Linked DNA regions of Homo sapiens. Changing the gene in region 1 together with any one later gene gives a genetic interaction. Each region holds a gene or a part of one and is shown in the gene's direction. Other genes may lie near its edges.

Region 1 (3,500 bases):
TAGCTTATGTTAAACTAGATAAAATGAGCTTAGTGAATTTTATGTCTTAATGGTTTCATAGTAACAAATGAACTTTGGTAAGGTCTATTCAAAAATATATCTCCAGGGCCGGGCACAGTGGCTCACGCCTGTAATCTCAGCACTTTGGGAGGCCGAGGCAGGCAGATCACAAGGTCAAGAGATCGAGACCAGCCTGGCCAACATGGTGAAACCCCGTCTCTACTAAAAATACAAAAAAATCTGCTGGGTGTGGTGGCACGTGCCTGTAGTCCCAGCTACTTGGGAGGCTGAGGCAGGAGAATCACTTGAACTCGGGAGATGGAGGTTGCAGTGAGCTGAGATCGTGCCACTGCACTCCAGCCTGGTGACAGAGCAAGATCTGTGTCAAAAAATATATATATATATATGTTTCTAAACTTCTAGCAATTCAAGTTTACACTTTGCTTACTCCAATTTTTGTTTTCACTCCATGTTTATAAAGTCTTAAGAATTCTCTGTGTGTGTGTGTATATATATATATATGTACACATATAGTATATATATACTTTTTTTTTCTGTCTTTTTTGAGACGGGGTCTCGCTCTGTTGCCCAGGCTAGAGTGCATTGGTGCAATCATAGCTCACTGTAGCCTCAACCTTTTGGACTCCCACCTTAGCCCCCTAAGTAGCTGGAACTACAGGCACCTGCCACCACGTCTGGCTAACTTTTGTATTTTTTGTAGAGACAGGGTTTTGCTGTGTTGCCCAAGCTGGTCTTGAACTCCTGGGCTCCAGTGATCCACCAACCTCAGCCTCCCAAAGTGCTAGGATTACAGGTGTGAGGCATCACATCTGGCCTTAAATTTTTTTTATAATGTATACTTGAATTCCAAATAAGGTATATTCAGAATGAATAGAATTAAAAAAACATTTGGTTTATATTTTACTTCAACATTATTAGTTAATGTTATTAGTTTATGATTATGGAACTAATTTATGTTTGACATTTAAAAAATTGAAATGGAATAGATGGATATAATGTGAAAAGTAAATGTGTGTCTTCTTTCTTCTCCATTCTCCCACACACCCTCTACGTTAACTTCTTGAATAACCTAGACATTTTCTGCACATGAATATATAAGCAACTTTTTTTCTTGCAGAATTGGGATCATATTTCCTGCATTTGAATATATTTGAAGCATTATATAGTATATAGTCAAGTACTTCATTACAACTCTATTATAAACTCACTTAGTAGATAATCATCTTTTGATTACCCAGAAAGTATAGTGAGTCTTTCACCAACAAGCATTTATTGAGAGTTACGATATTCTTAACATGCTGAATCTGAGTATAGCATATGTCGACCTCATTAAAATTTAGGCATTTTGGGGACAAGGGCCAGGACAGAATCAAAGATTGCCCAAATAGGTAATGAAGACTAAATTACGTAGTGTAGGCTAGAAAGAGGGACAGCTGTAGTAGGCATGCCAGAAAAAAGGGAGGGAGTTCCAAGAATGAAGATGAAATTACGATAGGTCGAAAAGATGGAGGGGGAGAACATGTTTGGCAATGAGAAAACACTGCATGGAAACAGAAGCGCACAATCTGTGTTTCTGGGAAAGTCACACCTCACTAGAACAGAGGGTTTATAATGCTGGGTGGTGGGAAATAAGGCCAGGTGGCTTAAAGGAACCTGGAAGAGTTAAGCGGGGATAGGCTAGTAAACAGATGTCTTTGAAGATTTATTTGTTCTTTTGTCTGTGTTCTATTTATTGGATGGTGATAAAGAAACGTTATCTGTTTTATTAGGATTTGATTCATAAGAAAAGAGAAATATCTCTGTAATAGAAATGATTAGATGAAGCTGGGTCACCTGAAGATCAGTATGTTCTATTCAACTTCAGACCCTTGCCCAGGGATTTCCTCTAATCCGTTTGAGAATTTTATTTTAGTGTGTGTGCGTGTGTGTGTGTGTGTTTGTGTGTGTTTTGAGACAAGGCTGCACTCTATCTCCCAGGCTGGAGTGCAGTGGCACCATCTTGAGTTACTGCAGCCTTAGTCTCCCAGGCTCAAGTGATCCTCCCACCTCAGCCTCCTCTGAGTAGCTGGGACTACAGGCACATGCCACCATGCCCAGCTAATTTTTGTATTTTTTTATAGAGATGGAGTGTTGCTCAGGCTGGTCTTGAACTGCTGGGCTCAAGGAGCCCACCCACCTCAGCCTCCCAAAGTGCTGGGATTACAGGTGTGAGCCATCATGCCTGGCCCAGTTTGAGAATTTTAAAGCAAGAGCATGCAATTTATTCTTAAAGTTTTAAGAAACTTTATTCTAGTAGCAAAATAGAAATAATATCATGGAAGCCAATTAGAGGCTCTTTATATTAATCCATGTACAAAAGTACAAGTATCGGAATTGAGTTGCTGGTGTTGGGAATGGAGATTCAGGGATATAAGAGGCATTTAAAAATAGATAAATCTGGATTGCCAAGTGCATATAGCGGCTGAAAAGTGGGGATAGGATGAATGAAGGACAGGAGGTTTTGTACATGCCCTTTCCTCTGCTTGAATTGGTTTGCCCTCCTCTCCGACTACTTCATTCCTTCTTGCCTTTTCTCACTTAAAAGCATCACTTCTTCAGGGAAGCCTCCCCTGACTTACATGACTGAATCACTTAGCCAGGCTCTCATAGCCTTGGTAGTACTAATCACACTGTGGTTTCACCGTTGTCTGTGTGATTATTTGGTAAATTACCTGTTTTTCCTTACTGGAATCTAAGCTCCACAAGGGCAGAAGGGCAGGGGTTTTTTTTGTTTGTTTGTTTTGTTCATTATGAAATTAGAGGGTCAACACAAGGACTCTTTTTTTTTTTTTTTTAAAGAGATACTTTGTTGCCCAGGCTGGAGTGCAGTGATGTGATCATAACTCATCTCAGCCTCAAACTCCTGGGCTCAAGTGAAGTATGGGGACTCTTATTTTACTTTTCCCTTAATAGCCTACTATTTCATTTCTTTTCTTTCCTTTTTTTTTTCAACAAAAAATATAAGCTACTATAATTAAAAACTAATAACGCTAAAATGGAATATAAAGCAATTAGTTTTAAAATTTAGATTATATTCTGAATATATCTTATTTGAAATTTAAGATACAGGCGGGGCGCAGTGGCTCACGCCTGTAATCCCAGCACTTTGGGAGGCCAAGGTGGGCGGATCACTGGAGGTCAGGAGTTCAAGACCAGCCTGGCCAACATGGTGAAACCCCATCTCTACTAAAAACCCAAAAATTAGCTGAGCGTGGTGGCGGGTGCCTGTAGTCTCAGCTACTTGGGAGGCTGAGGCATGAGAATTGCTTGAACCTGAGAGGCGGAGGTTGTAGTGAGCTGAAATTGCATTTCTAGTGGGCGATGGAGTGAGACTCCGTCTTAAAAGAAAAGAAATTCACAATATAAACCATAAGAAAAAAAAAAGTAGAGTAGTTTTTATAAGCATGGAATAGAAATGAAAATTGGCGGGAAAGTATAAT
Region 2 (3,500 bases), on another chromosome or scaffold:
TCCCTATGGCCACCACCACTACAAGCCCACAGGGATTATTGCCAGGCTACGGTTCATGTTCACTTAAGGCCCAAGGGCTCTTCAGTCAGCTTGTGGTGAATGTTGCCAGGCCTGGGACTTGCCCTTCAGGGCACTGGGCTCCCTTCTGGCCCAGGCAGGTCCAGGAGTGCCATACAAGAGCCAAGGTCTGGAATCAGGAACCCCAAGAGCCCACTTGGTGCTCTGTTCCACTGTGGCTGAGCTGTTATCCAAGTTGCAAGATAAAGTCCTCTTTACTCTTCCCTCTCTACTGCTCAAGTGGAAGGAAGGAGTCTCTTTTGGAGCTGTGAACTGCACTGCCTTAGATTAGGGAAAGGGTGGCATAAGCACTGCCTTAGCCACCTCAGCTGGTGGCTCACTAGGTTACGTGCCCCCTAGGTCCAATGACTCTCGAACCCAGCACAGCACTAAAACTTGCCTAGAAATTACAGTTCTTGTGGCCTAGACTGCCTTTCAAGTTCATTTAGGGCCCCAGGACACTTCAGCCTATAGTGGTGCGGCTTGTTGAAACTCAGGCTCCAACCGCTGGGATGGACATTTCCCCTCTGGCTAGGGCACATCTAAGTTCTCCCTCCATGGGCATTGGCTGAGTTCTTTGCTAATGGCCCGGGTGTTGCTTGCCAGTTGGCCTGGTGTTGCTTTCTGCTGTGACATGGTAACACTGAGTTCCAGTGCAAAGTCCCACAATCACTGTGCTCCCCCTCCCCCAAGCACACAGATTCTTTGCACCACACGGCCACTGCATGGGGGTGGAAGGGGTAGTAGACAATCGAAAACTGTCTTTCCTACTCTCTTCAGTGTCTCTTTCAGCAATATGAAGTTAAAATCAGGTACTGTGATCACTTACCTGATTTTTGGTTCTTGTGAAGGTGCTTTTTTGTGTAGATAGTTGTTAAATTTGGTGTTCCTGTGGTGGGGGCAGCGATTGGTTGAGGCTTCTATTCAGCCATCTTGCTTCATCTCCCTCCAATAGATTAAAAAAAAAAAAGATTTTAGAATTATCTAATTTTTTTCTTTAAAAGATGTAGATGATTGGCTTATAATTATAATCTTCAGGTGTTTCCAGAGTCATTGTGTTCTGTCATGAAAGTAATGCAAGAGCAATTTTGCTGTAATGAAAAGCTAGAAGTTTCGAGAACACTTTATTTTCTAATTCCAAAACAACAACAAAAAATAGAACTTTGCTAGCTGGCTGTGTCTACTGTCATTCTTTGATTAGATACTTTGAGTTCTGCATACCATGAGGTGTTGGTATGATAGCATGTTATGATAGAAACTTTTAGAAAAGACCAGAGACTTGAGAGATAGACTAACCTGCATGTGAAATTCACCTCCGTCACTTTTGCTCTGGTATTTCGAGCAAGTTATTTAACTTCCTTTGTAAAGTGAAGATTATACTTCTTTAGAGTTGCTGTGAGGATGAAAGCACTCAGAATAAGTTCTTGTTGAATGGTGGATGTATAAGGAATACCATGTGGTAATGATTATATGTTTCAATATTGTCAGGTGAAGTGAAGGACAAAAATGTTCAAGTGGTCGAGCTTCCCATTGTAGACAGTCTTCATCCCCGTCCTCCATATTTACCCTTGGCTGTACCAGAAGACCTCGCAGATCGACTTGTACGAGTGCATGGTGACCCTGCAGTGTGGTGGGTGTCTCAGTTTGTCAAATACTTGATCCGCCCACAGCCTTGGCTAGAAAAAGAAATAGAAGAAGCCACCAAGAAGCTTGGCTTCAAACATCCAGTTATTGGGTAAGAATCTGATTTTTTCCCTCAAACTGTGATATGTAGTAGTTAGGGTTATGTATCTTTACAATATATTGTGAATTTTACAATATGTAGTTCAATTTTTATAGTCCCACCAAAGGACAGAGGTTCTAGAGCTATCCTAAGGTCACATGGAGACTATTTTTTTTTGTTTGTTTACTTAGAACAGCTAAGAAAGTTGCTTAGTAGTGCTCTATTACTGTCTCCAGTTCTCCTCTTCCTTTGCTTCTTTCTCCTCTTATCACAGCTCTCTTTTGGCTTTTGTTGTTGTTATTTTTGAGATAGGGTCTCACTCTGTCACCCAGGCTGAAGTGTAGTGGCTCACTGCAGCCTCAACCACCCTGGGCTCAAGTGATCCTCCTACCTCAGCCTCCCAAGTATAATAGCTGGGTCTAAAGGCATGTATCACCATGTCCAGCTTCTTTTTATTTTTATTTTCATATTTCCCACCCCACATCTTTCCTTGTGTCTTAGTCTTCATATGTAGAGGAGTTATTGACCCCATTCTAAGTGTTAGACGTAAAGAAGGTACATGTGAAGTCAGAATATCAAATCGTATTTCTTCTCATGTAACTTTTGATTGAAATTCAATGGAATCATTCGTTCTGCCCACTTCATCTCTATAGAGCCCACTGAACAATTCCAATTTCCCCAGAAAAAGAGTGATTATGAAGGATGTGGGAAGGAAAGATGATAGAATAGATGTTCATATGATTGTATCCACATCTGGGTTATAGTCTGGAATGCAAAGCAAAGAATAGCCGTGAAGATGGCAGAGTAACTCTGGTGAAATCAAACCTTCACTCCAGATTCATAATAAAAAACTGGCCTTAAGTTTGGCCCATATACTGTGACCTAAAGGCGTATAAGTCTACCTTTTTCTACATATAAATAGTGATTTAGTAATTTGGGGGGAGGGGAAGGCAAGATTTAAGGAGGGTGTTTTAATTTATGAAAATAAACTGTTATTTTTATTTCCATTAATATTGCTTTGGGGCCAGGCATAGTGGCTCATGCCTGTAATCACAACACTGGGAGGCTGAGGCAAGTGGATCACTTGAGCCCAGAAGTTTGAGAAAACTCAACATAGGCAACATGGTTGAAACCCCATCAATTAAAAAAAAAAAAAAAAGCAAAAATTAGCCAGGCTTGGTGACACATGCCTGTAGTACCAGCTGTTCGGGAGGCTGAGGTGAGAGGATCACTTGAGCCTGGGAGGCAGAGATTGGAGTGAACCATAATCACGCCACTGCACTCCAATGTGTGCAACAGAGCAAGACCTTGTCTTAAAAAAAAAAAAATTACTTTGGAAACACTAAGATGGGAGGAGAGAGGAGAAAACTGTGGAAGTCAGTGCCTTATTCAGTACAGGGAAGTGTGAATCTGTGTCCCCAATTTTACAATTTTGGGGCTTTTCTTAAATATGACAGGTGAAATTAATATCTGCTGTCATTTGATATGGTGAAAAACAGAGAAAGGAAATGCATTATGCCCACAACAGAAGGGCTGGAATCGGTTTCATTTACCTAAAATAGTAAAAACCGTTAAAAGGTTTGCTGGTCTTAACGGTGCTGTAAAAGTTTATCCAGGTCTATGTTTTCCTGGGACAACTTTTAAGTTCTACAAGCTGGCAGTTATGGTGACTCTCCAGGGTAAAATAAAGAGGAAAACCCTTGGTATCAGAACTTTACAA

What was found. A genetic interaction does not mean that the proteins touch.
Region 2: changes in TRAPPC11 (region 1) and FUT8 together harm fitness less than expected from each alone (positive genetic interaction), as found in Homo sapiens cells (one large-scale study listed by BioGRID).

The regions. Positions count from the first base shown.
Region 1 is NC_000004.12:183,686,793-183,690,292, forward strand, and holds part of TRAPPC11 (trafficking protein particle complex subunit 11), read left to right. Parts: intron 1-3,500. UniProt on the Homo sapiens protein: Involved in endoplasmic reticulum to Golgi apparatus trafficking at a very early stage.
Region 2 is NC_000014.9:65,720,230-65,723,729, forward strand, and holds part of FUT8 (alpha-(1,6)-fucosyltransferase), read left to right. Parts: intron 1-1,545; coding exon 1,546-1,792; intron 1,793-3,500. UniProt on the Homo sapiens protein: Catalyzes the addition of fucose in alpha 1-6 linkage to the first GlcNAc residue, next to the peptide chains in N-glycans.